Homo sapiens: one gene and its partners. The protein of the gene in region 1 interacts with the protein of each later gene in a biochemical or structural test. Each region holds a gene or a part of one and is shown on either strand. Other genes may lie near its edges. The genes, in order: EIF4E2, ARIH1 and ARIH2.

What was found.
Region 2: the proteins of EIF4E2 (region 1) and ARIH1 form a complex in vitro, tested with the Homo sapiens proteins (one study listed by BioGRID).
Region 3: of the proteins of EIF4E2 (region 1) and ARIH2, one has a biochemical effect on the other in vitro, tested with the Homo sapiens proteins (one study listed by BioGRID).

Annotation. Positions count from the first base shown.
Region 1 is NC_000002.12:232,553,689-232,560,796, reverse strand, and holds part of EIF4E2 (eukaryotic translation initiation factor 4E type 2), read right to left. Parts: intron 4,382-7,108; coding exon 4,267-4,381; intron 2,914-4,266; coding exon 2,779-2,913; intron 1-2,778. UniProt on the Homo sapiens protein: Recognizes and binds the 7-methylguanosine-containing mRNA cap during an early step in the initiation. Acts as a repressor of translation initiation.
Region 2 is NC_000015.10:72,469,915-72,477,348, reverse strand, and holds the start of ARIH1 (E3 ubiquitin-protein ligase ARIH1), read right to left. Parts: upstream 3,020-7,434; 5' UTR 2,710-3,019; coding exon 2,335-2,709; intron 1-2,334. UniProt on the Homo sapiens protein: E3 ubiquitin-protein ligase, which catalyzes ubiquitination of target proteins together with ubiquitin-conjugating enzyme E2 UBE2L3.
Region 3 is NC_000003.12:48,977,752-48,984,859, reverse strand, and holds part of ARIH2 (E3 ubiquitin-protein ligase ARIH2), read right to left. Parts: intron 5,379-7,108; coding exon 5,227-5,378; intron 4,508-5,226; coding exon 4,364-4,507; intron 3,227-4,363; coding exon of another isoform or gene 3,201-3,226; coding exon 3,132-3,200; intron 1,965-3,131; coding exon 1,881-1,964; intron 1,662-1,880; coding exon 1,590-1,661; 3' UTR 1-1,589.

The DNA of each region.
Region 1 (7,108 bases):
TATCAGCTCAGCATAGTAATGATGTTGATTTCATATTAAGCAGATTATAACTGAGTTGTAAGAGTATTCTAGATACAAGTATTAGATATGATTTGCAATATTTTCTCCCATTTTGTAGGCTATCTTTTCACTTTCTTGATAGCGTCCTTTGAAGCAGAAAAGTTTTGAATTTTGATGAAATCCTATACAGATGGGGTCTCACTATGTTGCCCAGGCTGGTCTCAAACTCTTGAGATCAAGTCATCCTCCTGCCTTGGCCTCCCAAAGTACAAGGATTACAGGCGTGAGCCACCACGCCCAGCCAAGTATTTAATCTTTTGCTGCTTGTGCGTTTAGTGTGTTACTTAAGAAGGCTTTGCCTAACCTAAGGTCATTAGGATTTACTAATATTTTCTTCTAAGAATTTTATAATTTTAGCTCTTACATTTAGGTCTATGATCCATTTTTAGTTACTTTTTGTGTATGGTGTCAGGAAGGAATGCAAATTCATTCTTCTGCACCTGGAAATCCAGTTGTCTCAGCAATGTTTGTTGAAAAGACGATTCTTTCCCCGGTTATTGTCTTGGTACCTTACATTACTGGTTTATTATAAACAAAGGATACGATGAAGAGATGCGTAGGGCAAGGTATGGGGGAAGGTATGGAGGAAGGTTCAGGGAGCTTCTATGTCCCCTCTAGGCGCACCACCCTCCAGGCACCTCCATGTGTTCAGCTATCTGGAAGCTTCTGTACCTGAGTTTCAATTATACTGGCTCCTCGACTTAATCCAGTGAATTATGACTGACTCGAGAATTTAAAAATTTTTTTAGACAGGATCTATCTCTGTTGCCCAGGCTAGAGTGCAGTGGCACAAAAAAGGCTCACTGTAGTCTTAACCTCCTAGGCTCAACTGATCCTCCTGCCTCAGCCTCCTGAGTAGTTGGGACCACAGGTGCATGCCAACATGGCCAGCCTTTTTTTTTTTTTTTTTTTAATGCTCCCGTTTTCTCCAAGCCAGCTAATTTTAAACTTTTTTTGTAGAGGCAGGGTCTCATCACGTTGCCTAGGCTGGTCTCAAACTCCTGGGCTCAAACAATCTTCCCACCTCAGCCTCCCCAAGTGGTGGGATTACAGGCATGAGCCACCGTGCCCCACCATAACTTGAGACTTTAGATCAGACACTTAACCCAAGTTTTACTTTCCTCATTTGTAAAACATGGATAATATCACTGACCTCATAGGGCTATCATAATGTTGGAAGGAAATTATACAAATAAAGTATGTATTATATGTCCTTCCTCCTTAGCAGTTTGTTGTAGTATTTCCTACTGGAGTATTCTTTTCTAGTTTCTGCATTTTATTTTATTTTTTTATTTTTTTCAAACCAAAGCACTTTAAAAAAAAGTAATATGCAAGACTGTTGGAGAAAACCGTGATTGTTACTGAACAGATGAGACACTTTGAGAAAAGATAAACAATTATTCATTTTTGTTTAAGACATCAGGAGTACTAATAAAGAACCAACTGGTAAACTGCTGATAATTCCATATAATATATCTAGCATACAACTACACTGAATCATTCTTTTTTTTTTTTTTATACTTTAAGTTTTAGGGTACATGTGCACATTGTGCAGGTTAGTTACATATGTATACATGTGCCATGCTGGTGCGCTGCACCCACTAACTCGTCATCTAGCATTAGGTATATCTCCCAATGCTATCCCTCCCCGCTCCCCCGTAGTTTCTGCATTTTAAACAGGACTAATACTTCACCAATTTCAAGAAAATGACAAACCCCACATTTGATTCTGCCCAGAGATTGAATGTACAGCACACACTGGGTACATAATAACCTTTGTTCAACTAGAGTGGTGTTAGTTGCAGATGGATTCTTGGGGTACACAAACCAAGTCACCTGGGAGAGAGATGAGACAGTCTGGGCTCTCTGACTGCCAGTACCCACAAAAGCAATTATTAGAGATTTCATTTTCTTTCTGAACACAGGAAAAAGATATTTTATGCATAATCATTAATACAGCCAAAACCCTAATGGGAGGTTCTTAAATACAAAACTTTCAAAATTTTTCACTTTACTGTCAAACTTCATGAAGATAGACACCATGTATTATAAACTTCTGTATCCATGACACTTTGAACTTAGTAAGGACTCCATAAATATATACTTAAAAAAAAAAACAAACAAGCAAACAAAACAAACAAAAAAAAAAACAGGGCCAGGTGCAGCGGCTCACTCCTGTAATCCAGCCTTTTGGGAGGCCAAGGCGGGTGGATTACCTAAGGTCAGGAGTTCCAGACCAGCCTGGCCAACATGGTGGAACCCCGTTTCTACTAAAAATACAAAAATTAGCTGGGCGTGGTGGCACATGCCTGTAATCTCAGCTACTTGGGAGGCTGAGGCAGAAGAATTGCTTGAACCCAGGAAGCGGAGGTTGCAATGAGCTGAGATGATACCACTGCATTCCAGCCTGGGAGACAGAGCAAGAGACTCTGTCTCAATTAAAAAATAAAAATAAAAATAAAAAAACCCAAATCTGTTCTTTTGTATTATGCCCTTCTGATCAACTCTACAATTCTCATATTTGTTGATACCTACATGCTAACCATGGATATCTAGTGAGAAACCTAAGAATGAACAAATCTGACTCCGGAGACTCAGGTCAGTCAATTAAGAAAACCAGAATCTTAAATAGGTTACTAGGAAAGTAAATAAACATCATATCAATACAGGCATGAACGAACTATCAAGGCACACTCCATTAATTCACCAAGAACTCACAGAGGCAAAGGTGCCAATCTGTTTGATATTCTGTTCATAGCTCTGTGAGCTCGTGGGACGGCCGGGGGTTCTCCTGGAGTACCAAAAAGTGTAGTTGTACTGCAGGGGATGCTCTGCCGGTCCAGGGACAACAGCCTGGGAAGTAAAGAAGGTGTGTTAGTCCTGGGCATTTGTCACGTGGTCTGAGACTGAGAGAACATTTTGCAGTGTCAATCCTTACCACCTCCACAATTAAAAAAGGATATACAACCTCAACTATCTGCAATGTGCCAAAGATTCTGCTTACACAGTACATTTCCTCAGTGGTTAACTGATTCTAAATTCCTGAAACACTTTACCTGTGTTCTTATGGCCTTTGTAACTTTCTCCCTCATATAATAGGTATTCATCTTTGTATCTTATCTCAGCATATGCCCAGTCCAAGCACTGCCTCCTCTATGAGATTCATCACTGTCAAGTTACTTAACCTGTTTGTGCCTCATCTTCTTACCTGCAAAATGAGGAAAATTGTAACAACCATCTCACAATACTGCTGAGAGGATCAAATGAATCAGTGGATATACAATGCTGAGCACAGTGCCTGGCACAGAGTACGTGCACAACAGATGTCAGTATTATTATTGGTACTATTAAACGTAAGCCCCTTCCACAGTCTCATTCACCTTTGTGTCCTCTTAGCATCTAGCATAAAATGCTAGTAACCCTTGGAGGGTTACTCAATATTGTAGAATAAATGAATTAGTGATTGCTTTGATATTTCTTTGTTTGTTTTTTTGAAACGGAGTCTCACTCTGTTGCCAGGCTGGAGTGCAGTGGCGCGACCTCGGCTCACTGCAACCTCTGCCTCCTGGGTTCAAGCGATTCTCCTGCCTCAGCCTCCCCAGTAGCTGGGACTTCAGGCACGCGCCACAGCATCCAGCTAATTTTTGTATTTTTAGTAGAGATGGGGTTTTACCATGTTGGCCAGGATGGTCTCGATCTCTTGACCTAGTGATCCACCCACCTTGGCCTTCCAAAGTGCTAGGATTACAGGCATGAGCCATGGCACCCAGCCTGCTTTGATATTTCAAGGAAAAAATTGATCTCTCTCTCTCTCTCATTCCCTAAGTTTTCCCTTTTCCAAGTCACTTTCACCTTAGACTATTGCTGACTAAACTGTCTACAATTTCAAGGGGTATGTAGGATTTGAAACACTCAGCAGTGGCTTATGAAGCAGCTAACAGCCTTGTTAAGCTCCAGGACTAATCTCCATCTCAGGCTAGGAGAACGTTGAAAGCAAGGCAGCATCTCAAGATTCTGTGGCAAGAGAAAAGTTCTAGGTCTGAAAATGAACATCAATGATTGCACAATGTTTTTCTGAGAACAAAGTCAGATATTCCAACACAGGATGCCATCAAGTTAATCTGGTATCTTCCAGATAAACAGATTCCACAAGATAATAAAAGTCTCAAGTTCAAAGGCAACTACATCTGTGCAGCCAACACTCACCTTTCTCTTGCTACTGCTCTGATTCTTGTCTCGTTCCGTTTTTTCCTTCTCACCATCTTTCTGTGTGCTGTTTTCTTCATTCTGATCATGGTCCCCACTGTCATCATCTTTCAAACTGAATGGAAAGGCAACACAATACAATTCTGTGACGAAGTCAATTCTTGCTTACCTAACAAAGCCACCAGGTCATACGAACTACTATGTAACCAACCCAAAGTCACTCAAATTCAGGCCCTGAGATGTAAGAAGGGCAAAATAACACAGACAGGCAAATTAGGATTAAACAAAAACGAAACACCCATCAGCTAACTTGTGAACTCCACAAAGCACTGTCTTTCAGTTTTCTAAAAAGCCACACAAAGAACCAGTTAAAGGGAATGTTTAAGGTATACAGTTTAAGGGATTGTTTTCCCTGCCAAAAATGGAGTAAAAAATGAGAAGAGTCTCTAATGCTATGGCATTTCAAATGAAGGTTAAAAACGTACTATCTGCTTTGCCACTTCTCCTTACCACCTCTTCTACACTCACTGTCACTACTTTAGTTTAGGCCCTCTTCTCCTGACACGTCAATCATATAATAAATTCCTGGTCTTCCTGACACAAATCTCTCACTCTCTATCCATCCTTTCACTAGCATTATCTTTTTAAGTGCAAATCTGACATTTAACTTGCATGCTTTAAACTTTCAACTGTCCCTCGCTTTTTGATGCCTACCCTCTAAGATAAAGTACAGCAAAATGTAAGATCCTCTAGAATCTGACTCCTGCCAGCCAGGATCCTCCTCCTCTAGCAATCTATGTTGCCGTATCGGTGCCATTTGCAAACACCACCCCTTCGGTCTGTCACACCATTCCTCCCATGTCTGCTTTCCCTACTAGAGAGAGAGTTCCCTTAGAGCAGTGTCTTATTTCATCTCGGTATCTCCAGCACCCAGGGCAAGATGTTGCCTTAACATGCGGCACTAGAAGATGCTGAATAAATGGTAAACCAAAAGGAAAAATAAATGACTGAAAGAAAGAATAAATGTGTTCTTGCTTCATAAGCACAGAGTCAAACGAACTTTAGGGATTACCCTTTCATGAGCAGTGAAACTACCCCAAGGCTTTCAGGTACACCTAAAATCACCGGATCCAGACAAAAAGATAAATGGAAGGTGAGTTTGCAAAGACAATAAGAAAGCCATTTATTTTAGGGCTGGACCATTAATTCATCACAGATCTTCTCTCCAATCATCTTTCTCGCCCCAATAACTATATGTGTGGTCAAACGAAATTAGGCAGTTCTCAAGAATGGTACTAGAAATGCTCCAGTTATAATTCAGATACTACCCTATGCTGACACATAAACATGTTGCAGGGTACTTTGTATTTGTGGTCTGGTTTTTTTTGCCCACGAATCCCCAGTGCCTAGTACATTAAAAGTATCCAATAAATATTAGAATGAATGAGCTAGTCACATGTTGGGGTGCCTGCTCTGCCCATTTCACAGCCCTAGCTGTAGGATATACCCAGGAGGTTATGCCCTGTGCCATGAACCTTCCCATCCCTACCCTGGTCAAGACACAACTAGGAAGTGCACCTGACCAAAGGGTAGTCCAGCCTGGGCAATAACCTATGCCCCAGAGCCTTGCTCAAAAATATGAGCAGATTCCTCCCCTCAGCATTTCATCCAGGAGATGAAAGATCATAGACTCAGGAGCTGGGGCAGCCATATGGGCCCCATGCAAGAAAAGCCCTGAGAGAATTAAGACAATGAGCAAAAGCAGAGAAAGCCAGTATGAGATAAGAGAATGGAGCAGATGAGCAGAGAAAATGGAGGGGAGTTTCATTTTGTTGCTAATGCTAACATCTCTCTGGTTTTATTCAGCCTCCCTGGACTTCCAGGAGACCATCATCTGTACTTATGATATTCCCTTCCCCTTTATTAAACTTCCCCTTTATTAAACATTTGGTTTCCTTTTCAAAAGGAGCCTGTCTAGCACACAAGATCTACAGATTAAAAATTACCAACATCTACCAAGCATCTATGGTGTGTATGAGCTACCAGAGTGCTTGTCCCCAAGAACCTAGCTGAGGAGAAAAGGTACACAGATATACCCACGCCTCAGCATGGTGCAAAGGCCCCTGCTCTGCTCACATGTCCCAATATCATCTCCTTCCTGGTCCCAACAAACTCTTTTCACTCCAGTTGTATCACCCTAATTTTGGTGCCCCCATTTTATCCTTCTGTTATGCTCATCATGTGGTCTCTCCTCAAGAAGTCCTTCTTTGCCTAGTTAACTTGTCCTACAGGACTCAGATTGAGGGCCACTTTCTCTTGGCAACATTTCCTAACCTCTTCCAACCTAGGCTGAGTTGGGGTCTCCTCTTCTGAACTTGCCCATATAAATGTTTGTACTTGTTCCAGCTATACTCTCATGGCCAGTTCTGTCTCCTGATCAAAAACATCTCAAAGGTTCTTCTGCTTAGGCCCAGGACAACTCTCTTCTTCAGGGCACACCCTTGGGATGCAAACCCTTTTCCTCCCTTCTTAGCTTCCAACTCCCACTATAGCCTCTGGGGTCCCTTGCATTTAGATCTTGGTTGAAGAGGGGTACAGTCATCCCAGCATCTTGTTTTTGCTAGACCCAAGAAAAGTATATACCTTCCTTTCTTTTTAGTGGTTTGCTGCTGATCACTACCAGGAAACAAAAATAATTGTCAGAGAAGAAACAATGCTCCTGTGATCCCTGGACCACTTAGGGCTCCTTTCTAAGACAGTAAATGGGAACCCTAATGGACCTATATCTGGTGCTTTTATTACCTGAGAGTGGAACTAACCAACCACTCTGCCCTCTAAGCCT
Region 2 (7,434 bases), on another chromosome or scaffold:
AAAAACCTAGATAACTGCTATTTCCAACCTCTATTAATAGAAAGAAGTCTTACAAACCAGTAAGAGATAAATATCCCAAAGAGGGGCAATGGGCAAAAGAGAATAAAATGAGCAAAAAGCGAGGGGCAATTTAAAAAAGAAATACCAAGCCCAATAAACATAAATTCAATCTCACCAGGTTTTTTTTGCCCATCAAACACTGGTTGGGAAAACTAGCATAACTTTTCTGAAAGCAATGTGGTAGTATGTATCAAATGCATTGAAAATGAGCAAATTCTTTTGACTCAGCAATTCACTTTATCCCAAGAAAATAAGAACACTCAAAGACTGACCTATGAGGATATTTTCAATATTTATAAAAGCCAGAAACTAGAAAATAAAAAGGAAGGCAAATAACAGATTGATTAAATAAATTAGTTCAGATCTATAATCATATAAGTTCTCGAAAAATTTACTTGACAGAAGGTTGTTCAGAGTATTTCTGTAATGTTTTTCCACTGAAAACACAAACAGAACATACAGTATGGTTCCACTGTTATTAACGTGGAACCATATTAATGGCTATCCAAAGGTCTAGAAAAATAACTACAGTTCGCATTTTGTTGTACGTCTCTGGGTGGCAGGCTTGTTTTGTCTTTTTATTTTTTCTTACCTAATCAGATTTTTCTTACATGTGCATCTTCTACAGGCCGGGCACGGTGGCTGACGCCTGTAATCCAGCGCTTTGGGAGGCCGAGGCAGGCGGATCACAAGGTCAGGAGTTCGAAACCAGCCTGGCCAGCATGGTGAAACCCGTCTCTACTAAAAATACAAAAAATTAGCTGAGCATGGTGGAGCGCGCCTGTAGTACCAGCTACTTGGGAGGCCGAGGCAGGAGAATTGCATGAACCCGGCAGGCGGAGGTTGCAGTGAGCAGAGATTGCGCCATTGCACTCCAGCCTGGGCGACAAAGCAAGACTCCGTCTCAAACAAACAAAAAATTATCTTCTACAATCCTCAACTTCCTTCTTAGACTGTGTTCTCTAGATTAAAAATGAAGACTTCCACTATTTAGTAATGGCACTAGATATCAGAGATTTTTCTATTATGCAAAACACTGTATTGAAACAGTGCCTGAATAGATGCTTCAATTTTTAAAACTGTTACTTATAATACTATAAAAATCAGTTAATAATAGAAAGTCAACGAGTTGACAGTGACATACTTCTAATTTGTCAATGAATATTTAGCCAACCAATTTAAGTTAAACAAAAAAGAAATAATACTGATAAAAGAGGCAATAGTAACTTGCTGCTCATATATGTTTCCTTCCAGGTTTTCTAAAAATTGCACTGAATCAAGCTTCATTTTTATTCTTCAGCCATATCCCTGACTCCTCAGGAGAACTGAGGTTTTTTTTTTCCCCAAATGAAAACTTTTGAGTTTCTAAAGCTCAAAAATGCAAAATCTGACGCACATGGTTAAATGAGATGTGGTTATCAACTTACACCAAGCCTAACTTACCACAAAATAGAAAATATCAGAGAAAGGAGTTCACAAGCAGAAAACCTCTGCTTTCTAACTCACAATAGAGTCTTGTCCAATATTAGACAACACTGCGTTTTGTTGTTGTTTTAGCTACAAGGAAGGGTATGCAATATGCAGTAACTATTCCAACAGCTTCAAGCAAGTCATCTGCTACGACTAGAAAAAGTAGCAATTAGGTCCCAAACAGCAAAGACATAAAAAAGATGTAAGCAGAAGCCTCACCATCTGAAAAGAAGGCCCATCAGCACCTCTTCCGAGAAATACTTCCCTTCCCCCACCTTTAAGTAGGCACTTGAGACTGCCAAGATCCATTTCTTTATTAACTGGTGCCCACTTGGGGCAACTGTACACCAAGCTGCTCTTAGGCCTACTCTAATCCCTTCCAAAAGTGCTCAAATGAGGCTACGGCCGGGGTAAGTCCCGTCAGGGCCCAATTCTTCCTGACTCCTCTTCTCCACCCCACCTCCTCCGCCCCGCCCCAGTAGGCGATCGCCCGGCCAGAGAAAGGACACCCGGCCCAGGGACTGGCAGAAATTGCCCGCAAGAGAAGGCTTAGGCGACCGAAGGCCTCCGCCATAGCAGGACTTGGGAAGCACCGCCCCCAGCGCACCTCCCCACACCCGGCTAATCGGCGAACCTCTGCTTTCGACACCCTCTATCCCCAGCAGAGGCAGCGGAGAAGACAAGGCCGGGAGGCACCGGGCTAGGCTGCGCACCAGGCCCAGGCCTGTCCCTCGGGACCGCGCGTGCCGCCTGAATCCGCTCCCCCGTCGGGCCCGGTCCAGCTGGCGCGGCGGCCACCCTCACCTGGATGACCTCGTTGACCTCCCGGATACATTCCACCATGTGTTGTAGAATCTGCTCGGCCGTGAGCACCTCGTAGCGGTAATCCTCCTCCTGCTCATGCCCCGGCCCGCCACCACCACCGCCGCCGCCGCCGCCGCCGCCACCGCCGGGCCCCAGAGCGCTGCCGCCGCCACCGCCCGTCTCCCCGCACAGCAGTCCGTCCCGCTCCCCGCCGACGCCCAGCCCGGGCTCCACCAGCTCCACCTCGCCCAGATCCAGGGTATCATCGTCCGGCTCGTCGTCGTCTTCGTCCTCCTCCTCCTCGGCGCCGCTGTCCTCCTCACTGCACTCCTCGTCCTCGTCGAACTCGTAGTTGTAGCCCTCGTCCGAGTCCATGGCGCGACGCGCGGGGGCCCGGCGGACGCTGGCCGAGGCGGGGAGAGGGCGGGGACGCCGAGGCCCCGGCTCTCGCTCCGGCTCCGGCTGATGTCCGGACGCAGGCCTGGCTCCGGCCCCGCGAGCCGCGGCTCCTCCCCAGGAGCGGCGGTTGGCGTTTGACGGCTGGTGGCGGCGGGGAGGGCGCGGAGGAGGGAGGGAGGGAGCGAGGGGGCCGCTTGCTGCCCGCCTCAGTCAGACGCGGCTCCGCTCCGGCCTCCGAGAGAAAACAGTCCCCAACGCCACCTCCACGGCCGCTGCTATCGCTACTGAGCCAACAAAGGGGCGTGCGTCACCGCGTCGCGCTGCGTCGTCGCGTCACTCCTCTTTGCGTCACTGCGCCCCGCCCCACCGCCCCTGCGTGGAGCCCGGGGAGACCCCACGGCCCGGCCTTCCTGGGCCTGGGACCCGAGGGGAGCCGAGCGGGAATTGCTTTCCTGGTTCGATCCGCTGCCGCTGTGAGGGCCGAGCGGAAACCCGTAGACCTTTTATGTGAAGAGATTGCGGCCTCCTGGTCACCAGTCACCGAGAGAGGGACCCCTGGACCGCCTACGTGGTGGTGTCTGCCGCAGGCCATAGGGATCCAGCCCACTTAGGCAGTCCCTTGGGGACGCGGCCTTCCCTCCGGAGCGGAAAGGCGCTTCCCGCCCGCCCTGCGGTAATCCCGGAAGCCCTCAGCCGTTAAGCTAAAATTTCTGTTGCTTTGGCTACTGATGGAAACCTGTTGTAAGTGGAACCTCTAAACTGTATGACAGGTGAACCCACTTTAGGTAGCTGTGTGATTCTGTCCACTTGTACAGACGTGCAGTGGTTTTTAAGTCTCCTATAATGACGTCATTTTAAAGAGGCATTTCCTCCACCCCGCTGACAAGAGCGCCTCTTGAGGGCCCTAAACAATGTAAACAGCGATGATTTTCATGAATTGAGCACTGTGTAAGGGCTTTACATATATTCTGTCTCATCTTCACGGAGCCATAGTACCCATTTTATACCTGAGGAACCTGAAGCTCAGAAAGGAAAAGGGACCTGGCCAAGACCACATAACCCTTGCCCTATTTTAACCGCTGGATGCCCCAAAACATGAATCATAAAAATGCTTTGTAATGTAGATATATTATGTACTATGTAGTACATAAAAGACATGAATGCTTCAACAAAATACAGGCAATAATAGAAATATCTACAAGGGCCAAATGTAGCCAGAGAGATAATGCTTGAATCTCATCTGAAAGTGTGCTATGTGAGCTGAGTGTTGATGAATGGCTAGGAGTTCAACAGAGAAGGTAGGGAAGATGGTCTAGCCGCAGAGAACAAGCAAAAGCGCAGAAGGTGTCAAGTAAGTAATAGTTTGGGGAGCTTAAAGTGCATGGAGGGTACATGGCAAAATATTAGGCAAGTTAGTCAGGGGTCATGTCAGTTAAGAGCATTTTATGCCTAAGAGTGGGCTTAAATCTTTGCAAACAGGACATGCGAGCCAGAGAAGTGTTATGAAGGAAGAAGAGGCATAAGAAGGCTCCCTCTTGAGATAATCTGAAGAATTGGCCAGATTGAAAACCTTTTAAAATCAAAACCCCTGATTTGTTGATAAATCTTACTGTTCAACCTATAGGTTCCCTTTGGAAATTGATTTTGAAAAGTGAAAAATTCCATTATAATGTTAAAAAGCCTCTTCCAATTTGTCCATTTTGTAAGTTTTAAAATACCGATAATTATATTTCTTAACCTCAGGATTTACAAAGTAAAGCATTTAACCTCAATACTGGTAGTCTAGGTTTTTGTTGTTGTTGTTGTTGTTTGTTTTTTTCTTGAGACGGAGTCTCGCTCTGTTGCCCAGATTGGAGTACAGTGGTGATCTCAGCTCACTGCAGCCTCTGCCTCCCAGGTTCAAGCGATTCTCCTGTCTCAGCCTCCTGAGTAGCTGGGACTACAGGCGCATGCCACCACCCCAGGCTAATTTTTGTATTTTTAGTAGAGATGGGGTTTCACCATATTGGCCAGGCTGGTCTCGAATTCCTGACTTCAGGTGATCCACCTGCCTCGGCCTCCCAAAGTGCTGTGATAACAGGCATAAGCCACAGCGCCCAGCCAGGTCTAGGTTCTTTGATTCAGTGTTTCTATTTAGCAATTCTAGATTGCTGCCACAACTAAGGCAAGCCATGGACACAAGGAACACTTCTGTCCACCCCGTCTCCATTGTGATATTACCTACAGAAAAATTCAGTAACACTCGTCAGTACCCTAAACTCCTTTGCCTCACCTTTCTTTTCATTGTACCCCTATCTTGAATGAACCCTACCATCCATAGTCTCCACTTTGATAAATGGAGCAGCTGACCACTATTAGAGAAATGTGCATAGCCATCTGTATTCTATTACTACATTTCTTCTTTTTTTTTTTTTTTTTGGAGACACTCTTGCTCTGGCACCCAGGCTGGAATGCAGTGGTGCGATCACCACTGAAGGCTCAATGTCCCGGGCTCAAGTGATCCTCCCACTTCAGCCTCCTGAGTTGCTGGTACTACAGGTGCACACCACCATACCTGGCTAATTTTTTATTTTTTTTTACAGATACATCTCACTATGTTGCTCAGACTGGTCTGGAACTCCTGGCCTCAAGCAATCCTCCCACCTTGGCCTCCCAAAATGCTAGGATTACAGGTGTGAGCCACTACACCCAGCCTACTTAATTTCAATCACCAAGCACAACTCAACCTTCAATAATTCCCAGCAATCCTATTAAATTTTTCTGGATTGTTCTCCCACTCTCGACAACTCTTTCACACCTTTGCAGTTTCCTCAAACTTCAGCCCTGCCCTTTCACATCTTCTCAAAACATGTGACTTTTAGTCACAGAGGAATTTGAAAATATCAGGACCAATGTGACTTGAGACATGCTGAGCAAAGAAGAGGGTGTTAAGGGATAAAGTCAGAGAAAGCAGATCAAGGTAGGGGGCCAGTAGGGGCCTTGTAGGTCATCTTAAGAAGTTTACATTATTCCAGTGGCAATTATTAACGAGTTTTAAGCAGAAGAGTGAAACTATATGATCTGTGTTTTTAAAAAGATAACTGACTGCTTTATGGTGAATGGACTACGAAAACAAAGCAATTATGAGGCTATCTCAGTAGTCCAGGTAAGTAGATAATAGCCTGAACTAGGGTTGTGGCAGTGGAGGTGATAAGAAGTGGTCAGATTGAGATAGAATTTGAAAGAAGAGCCAAAATATTTGCTGGTGGCTTGACAGTGGGTTTGATGGAGGAAACAAGGATGCCTACTGTATTTGGAGCTTGAGCGACTGGGTGAATGGTGGCATCACTCACTGAAACATGTTATTTGAGGTGCTCGTTAGACATCAGGGTAGAGGTGTTGAGTAGGCAGTTCCATAAACTAAGATACAAGACTGAAGGTCAGGAAAAATTAGAGCTGGAGATACAATTTTACCAGAGTTTACACCAGCAATGTTTAGAAGCGGCATAGGATAAAGGTGAAGAGGATAAAAGTTATTGAAGCAGATGGATCTGAATTTGCCTATGCACCCCCCTGCCCCGTTGCTGTCTGTAACCTTAAGCAAATTACTAAGCCTCTCTTTTAGAGGTTTACTTTGGAGGATCATAATTCCTGTTCTCATAGGATTATTTGTGAGTATCAAATGAAATTATGTATTTAAAGCATTTGACACAGTACCTGGCACATAGCTAAGTACTCACAAAATCAGAGCTTTTAAAAAGTGTCATAAGTCACCTTTATAATCTTTTAATCAGTTTTGTTTATTTGTTTGTTTGTTTGTTTTGAGACGGAGTCTCACTCTGTCGCCCAGGCTGGAGCACAGTGGAGCAATTTCGGCTCACTGCAACCTCTGCCTCCCGGGTTCAGGCAATTCTCCTACCTCAACCTCCTGAGTAGCTGGGACTACAGGCACGCACCACCATGCCTGGCTAATTTTTGTATTTTTAGTAGAGACGGGTTTTACCATGTTGGCAGGCTGGTCTCGACCTCCTGACCTCATGATCCTCCCACCTCGGCCACCCAAAGTGCTGGGATTATAGTCGTGAGCCACCACACCCAGCCTAATCAGTTTTATTTTAATTATGCTTATATGTACACAGCCTGTGTCATCCCCATTTTCTAGGGAAGAAAATTGGTCTGATTTTTTTCTCAGAAACCTTTTCCATGATCTCATGACTTCATTTTTTATTAATATCATGAAAAGTATTACAGTGCTTCTGAATTTCTGGGTCTCCTATCCATGGATAAACCATTATAACCATGGTTTGATGGTTAATTAGCTTTCATTCTATACATATTTTTATAGAATTAATTAGTTAACATTCGTTCTATACATATTTTGGAAACCATCTTAGATTCAGGTTAGGTTATGGTGCTATTTAAGGAAAACCAGTAGAACAACTTCTCTCTGGCCCCACATTGGCCAAGGGATGACCCACATACATTATTTTGTATTGTTTTTTAATGACTTGTTCTTAAAGGTATTGCCTGTGTTATTGTTTTCCCAGCGATGGTGATTACTAGCTAGAAGCACAGTAGTCTCTAAACAACAACAGGAAAAGGTTCTTGAAAAAGAAAATACACAAATTAATACCTTTTTGGTGCCGAGATAATCATTGTTGGTAATTTGGCACTCCCATTGTCCCCAAGTCCTAGTAAGGTAAAAAAATATTCGTATACATT
Region 3 (7,108 bases), on another chromosome or scaffold:
GATCCCATGAGTCACAGCTATCCTCTGTCTTTAAGAATGACTGTTTTATAGCTTACATGGTACCTGGGAAATTGCTGACTTGCAGCTGAAATGTATGAATACCAAAGAATTTCTATCACAATATTCACAGATCTCTGTATCAGCTCTACTTGGAGGTCAAGCAGGCTTGGGAGAGTATAGACTGCTCTGCCTGCCCTAGAGTGGAAGCATTGAACAAAGCCACAAAAACCCCAGAGATCACAGATCTAACTTTTCAATGGCCCACAGGACCAGGTTCAGGACAGGTAGGACACCAGGCAAACCACTTGTTCCCTTGCGCTTCATTGTGCAAAAGCTGGTCTGTTCCTCTGGCCAGACCCTCCTTAGTACAGGATCTCGGACCACAAACCAAGGAGTCTCGTGGCCTTGGATTCCCAGACCCTAGGATGGTATCCCTCTGACAGCTGGAACCAGGCAAGGGGGAACACACCTCAGCCTCAGAGCAGCCTCTGGACACTCTCCAGGTAACATGAAAATAACTTGTGCAAACACAGCCCCCATGCCAGAAAGTCCAGTGCCCTAGGAAGGGCTATCCTGAATTCTGACCCTGATGTTTGCCAAAGGAGAATGCAGCAAGACAGTGTCAGGTTTGGCCAAATGTGACCCTGCTCAGAGCTATACCACTTGAATACTGGCACAAAAGAAAGGACCAAGGTAAAGCAAATTTATTTGGGAGGAACAATTCCCTTCAAAAGTAGATCCCTATCTTTAGGAGACAAAAGGCAACACTGTGATGAACCCACACCCCCTAGTTTGGGGGGCCACAGGCCCAACCCCATTCTGCTGTGGGCTCTAGCCTCAGTAGCCAGATCCAGGTAAACCTCAGTTTCAAGAATAAAGGTGAGCCACAGACATGCAGCACCACCAGAGACAACAACACCCCGTGGCAAGAAGACCATGTTCTGGACTGTCTCCGTACTGCCACGGTAAGGCAGGAGGCATGCTGTGACCCCTTGTGCTCCATGCCCATTGCACAGGCCAGTTCAATTCCCTACCATCTGCCACCCATGCTCTTCTTTGGGACTACAACTCTGGCCAAACGTGAATATGGAAAGCAGAGGCCCAGGGCCCTCTTGCAGTACAGACATTTTGAGGTGGGTAGGCAGCATATGTTACATTCTAAGTAAAACAGCTAGAGGGTAAAACACTCCAATGCCAATTTATTTTCAAAAAGGGCTCTGTGTTATCCTATAGTTTGCCTTTTTTTTTTTTTTGTATAATTGTACAACCTTTGAAAGTTACATAAGTTGTAATGATCTAATACTATTAATAGCCATTCAGAAAACACTTTCCCTCCCTCCCAACAACCATCCAGGGGGAAATAAAAGTCCTGAAAAGAGGCCAGTTCAACATGGCCTCTACCCTGGTAGAAACAAAAAGTGAAAAGAGAAGAAAACAGAAATCAACTAAGAGGTGTTGCCAGTGTCTCTCAGGAGTGGGGCCCTGGCTGTTGCCTGGGGTCATGAAAGGCAGAGCCTGCAGCATGCAGTATGGCAGCCGGGAGACCTTGCAGCCACATCTTCCTCACCCCGGCACATCCACATCCCAACTTAGGTGTCATGGAAATCTTTCAGCAGGGTTCTCCTCCGCTGCTCCGCTATATGCATCTGGTTCTCCAAGTCCTGCATCAGAGAAACAAGGTGTGTGCTTGCATGGCCCAGGCCTGGGAGCAAGGAGTAGCCAAAGCCACAAACACCCTCCAGGACCTCCAAGGAGTCAAAAACACTGCCCTTCCCATTCTTAGCAGCAGCTACCAGTGCACAAGCCAACAACGCTGTCACCTATTACCATGCCAGTCCTCTACCTGCAATATAGAATCCAAGAGGACAGTAGGCACTTACCCCTCTGTCATAGCTGTCTGCACGCTCCACTTTCCATGAGAGGTTTTCGATCTCAGCCTCCAGCTGAGCCTGCTGGTATTCAAACTGTATAGGCAGAGCAGGAGGGTCAAAAGGTGAGTGGGCTGTGGCTGGGGCAGGGCCTGTACACGGGGGTGGGCACATGCAGCACCTCAGGCTCACAGGAACTACAGACAATCCTGATACTGTCCTCAGAAAGTAGTGTTATTCCCTGTGCCCAGAGCCAGAATCCAAACAAAAGGCTATCCAAACAGCAAGGCCACATTCACCCTCGACCCTCAAAAGGTCCACTCCACCCTCCACACTCCCAAAGGCAGGCAAAGAATTTAAGCCACTAAAGAGAACACTCCCAACATGAAAGGGAATGGATGCTGTAAAAAATAAGTCAAATGAATATTCTCAGACACTATCACTTCATTTTTTTCAGTCCTCCAGCAAATCAAGAGCCTTAAAAATATTCAAACTTAAATACTTAGTAATCATACATCTAAGAAGATATACAGCTTTATGCACAAAAATATTCCTCAATGTCCTATTTATAGCAGTGAAAGAAAGAAAGAATAAATGTCCCAAGTGATGGTACAATCATGTAATGACACATTTATGCAACCATTAACAAAATGGTATTTACCAGGCAGGTAAATCATAACAGCTATAACAATAAACTGTTATAACAATAAAATGTTATATATAACCTTGATTATATATACACAATGTTAATTTTAAAAGGCTGGAAAATGCTGACAGTGGTAATTTCTCTCTGGACAATGTAAATGCTTTTCTGTTTTCCAGCATTTAAACAAAAATGTTAATTACTAGTTTATTAACACTATTGGTAATAACAATAAATTCATATTCAAATTCAACTCTAAGATGAAGAATTAAACAAGGTATAAAACAGTCAAATATATCTTAAGGACATGCATGCTAAATATCCCTCCCAAGCATGGGCACTACTGGCCTCCCACTGGCCACAGACCTTTTTAGCCAATCGCCCTTTAAATACAGTTGTTCAGAGGATTAGGTGCATGTGCCTTATATGACACAAAATAATAGCACCTGAGATCTATTTTGGAGGTGCCCAGAGCAGAAGTGGAATTTTGCAATTAGAGTTTTGTTTTAACTTTGCCCTCCCAATGACCAAGGTCTGGTCCTCACTCTCCTGCAAAGTGCTGGTAGAGAAGGGCACCTTTGAGGCTAACGGGACAGAGTAGAAAAATTGCTTTGCCTTACCAGCTTCTTCCTGGGTCCGGACTCCATGTAATATGCATATGGGTAGGTGTATTGCAGGGTGTATCGACACTGCAACAGGAGAGAAGAGAAGGAACCTGTGTCTGTGATTCTAAGCTACCTGCATCTCAGGTGGCTCTTACAATTCCTACCCTCAACATGCAAATTAGCCCAGCTCTATAGATATAGGCCTGAAAGAAATGATACTAGGCCAAATAGAGGATGAATTGGGAAAAGACATGAGGGAAAAAACAAACAACGATGGTCACAGAACACCCACAGTTTCTTTTACAAACTGATTATCAGCAGCTGCCTCAATGGATTTTCCCTCTTGAGTAGGACATCAGAGTCAACACATCTATCTCAATGCTTAGCCAAAGACAACCTTTTTTTTTTTTTTGAAACAAGGTTTTGTTCTGTTGCCCAGGCTGGAGTGCAGTGGTGCAATCCCCACTCACTGCAAACTCTGCCTCCCAGACTCAAGCGATCCTCCCACCTCAGCCTTCCAAGTAGCCAGGACTACAGGTGTGCATCACCACACCAGGCGAACGTTTGTATTTTTTTTGTAGAGACGGGGTTTTCTCATGTTGCCCAGGCTGGTCTCAAACTCCTGGGCTCAAGCAATGCACCTGCCTTGGCCTTCCGAAGTGCTGGGATCATAGGCGTGAGACACTGCACCCTGCCCAATCTTTTTTTTTTTTTTTTTTTTTTTTTTGACAGTCTTGCTTTGTCACCCAGGCTGGAGTGCAATGGTGTGATCTCGGCTCACTGCAGCCTCTGACTCCCAGGTTCAAGCAATTCTCGTGCCTCAGCCTCCCAAGTAGCTGGAACTACAGGCATGCACCACCATGCCCAGCTAATTTTTGTATTTTTATTAGAGACAGGATTTCACCATGTTGGCCAGGCTGGTCTCAAACTCCTGACCTCAAGTGATCAGACAATCTTTTATTTTCCTTTGAGTGATACATAAACAGGACAAAAGGAGAAGAAAAGTGCTCTAGTTTTCCCTGCAGGCAGAGGCAGTGCAACACTCTTATAAATCCCCTGGACATCCATCAGAGGACTGGGTCCTTAATGGGCACAGCACATGAAAATGTGGATCCACAAGCAGAAGCATGAAAGGCTGCACAGGGTGCTAAAATACCCTCTTTCAACAGAGCTTCCCACTATCAGAGGTCTGTGCCTGACGGAGCCAGGCACTGGACCAGGGATAAGATGAGTGAAGTGGTAGATACCTTGGCCAAGAGCTTGGCAGCATTCTGTAGGTACTGCCAGTCGATCCATGTCCCCAGATTGTTCATGACCCTCTCCTGAATCTTCTCGTGAATCCGCTGGTATGTCTGTGCCTCTAGCTGCAAGCTTTTATTGTGGTTTTCCCACTACAGGGCACAGAAGAAGAAGAAAACCACAGGAGTCCCATGAAGGTGCAGAGGTCTACACAGGAGTTCAGGATAGACACCTTGCTGGCAGGACATGGCCACAGACTCCTCTAACTTATTCCCCAAAGTGCAAGAGCAGGTCTTCTTCAGTCCATCCTTCTAACCTGTCCAGAGCAGCTGTATGCTTACTGCCAGATCGCTCTACCCTTCTGGGGCAACAGGACTCGAGCCCTGAGGACTCTGCAAAGCTAGGCCCCTGATGGTCTACTATGCTTAGAGACCATTATGCATGGGGCTCTTTGGGCTTCTAAAGGGCTCCCTGGGAGAAACTGCCTTCCAAATCTGACTACTAAGATGATACTATGGGAACAGATTGTGAGGACAGAAAGAAAAAAATAAATAAAAATTAAAAACGTAGAAAAAAGAAAAAAAAAAAAAGATGGTACTAGATGGAAAAGACTGTCTGATGGCCCTTCATTGTCCTTCAATCCATCATTCAACCAAGGTCAGTACCAGGTCCTTCCCTGTTGGCTGGGGATATACCCTATAGAGCTTGAAAGGCACATCTATAGAGGCAGCACCAGGGATACTGCAGGAGCTCCATTCACTGACTTCTATGTGCACAGGCTAGCTCTGTCTACCAGTCCCTGGGAATCCCACCAGCAGGCCAAGTGGAAGAAGCCTACCCTGTAGGGGAAGGTACAGGAGAGGACACCTACCCTCTCAAAGTAGAATAAGTACTTCTTGAGGGCTTCCCTCGCCTGGGCTTGTTGGCTCTGGTTCACGATGTCAGGATTCTCCTTGTAACGACTGCACTCATAGTATTCACTGCCATGAGTCTTCCAATCTCCTAGACACATCCAGCAGAAGTCTGTGCAGAACAGAGGAAGAGTCATTTACATCTACAAGACAACTCCACTTTCCTCCATAGGCAGAGGAGTGAGACAGACAGACCCTGCTCCCAAAGGGGTCACCTGAACACAACTTCCCAAGGGTGCCTCTTTCCCGAAGGAATGTGCACCTCTCATCCCTGTCACATCCTACTGTCCTTGTAGCCTGTACTTGCTGATAGGAACAAAAGCCTATGGATAATTTCTATTCCATGAGCACATGTGCCATGCGCCTTATTAATCTAACACAGGCAGATGCTGACCATACAGACTACTGGTCTGCTATGTCAATGCCACTATAAGAAGGAGGAACTAGTCCAACTGAGGCCGACCTGACTGTCTTAAACGCACATCATCAGTACAAACTGACCTCCCTACTGCTTCCTACCCTCACACTTGTCCTAGAAAGATTTTTGTATATGAAACTAAGAATAAAGGCTTTCCCCCTTTTTCTTCTATTTTAAAAAACACATTTCTTATTTTTCTTTTTCTTTTTTTTTTTGAGACAGAGTCTCACTCTGTCACCCAGGCTGGAGTGCAGTGGCGCGATCTTGGCTTACTGCAACCTCTGCATCCCAGGTTCAAGCGATTCTCTTGCCTCAGCCTCCCGAGTAGCTGGGACTACAGGTGCCTGCCAACATGCTGGCTAATTTTTGTATTTTTAGTAGAGATGGGGTTTCACCATGTTGGCCAGGCTGGTCTCGAGAACCCCCAGTGTTCAGTGATTCGCCCATCTCTGCCTCTCAAAGTGCTGGGATTATAGGCGTGAGCCACTGCGCCTGGCAAATAACACATTTCTATAAAACCTAGAGCTATCCAATGGTTCATAATCAGAATTATGATTCTGCTTTTGCGGTAGCTCACACCTGTAATACCAGCACTCTGGGAGGCCAAGGCGGATGGATCACCTGAGGTCAGGAATTTGAGACCAGCCTGGCCAACATGGTGAAACACCCGTCTCTACCAAAAAAAAAAAAAATATATATATATATATATACACACACACACACACACACACACACACACACACACACACACACATACACAAATTAGCCAGGTGTGGTGGCACATGCCAGTAGCTACTTGGGAGGCTGAAGCACGAGAACTGGTTGAACCTGTAGGGCGGAGGTTGTGAGCCGAGATTACACCACTGCACTCCAGCCTAGGTGACAGAGCGAGACTGTGTCTCAAAAAAAAAAAAAAAAATCCCCTATATGTTCAAAAAATTATTGTTAGATGCTCAAAGAATTACTGCAGTCTAATGGAGAGAAGCCAACCACAGTTTTGTTGGATGAACAATGGCCTGTTGATATTCTGCATTCCATGAGCACATGGGCTATGTGCCTTGTTATATCTGTGTCAAGGCTGCTATGAGAAGCAAAACTTGTCTGAAGTCCTCCTGGTTGTCTAGAACACACATTGTTCTAATAATACCTTATTAGATTTTATATCTGGCCTATTCTGCCTCTTCCAGACCCTGACAATGGTAAATCCTGTTTCCCAGGATTCACTCTCCAGGGATAACTTGGCTTACTGACTTCCCCAAAAATGAGGCTCTTGAATCATTTTAGGGAAGCCAAAGCAAAACCCGGAGACCCAGAGGTTGTTCAATTTTTCTCCTCCTGGGAGCCTTCACCTAATAGTGGCAACAATGCCCTCTCCTTAATTAGCTAGGTGTGCTTGCTACCATTTTAAAGAACAATACAGGCCG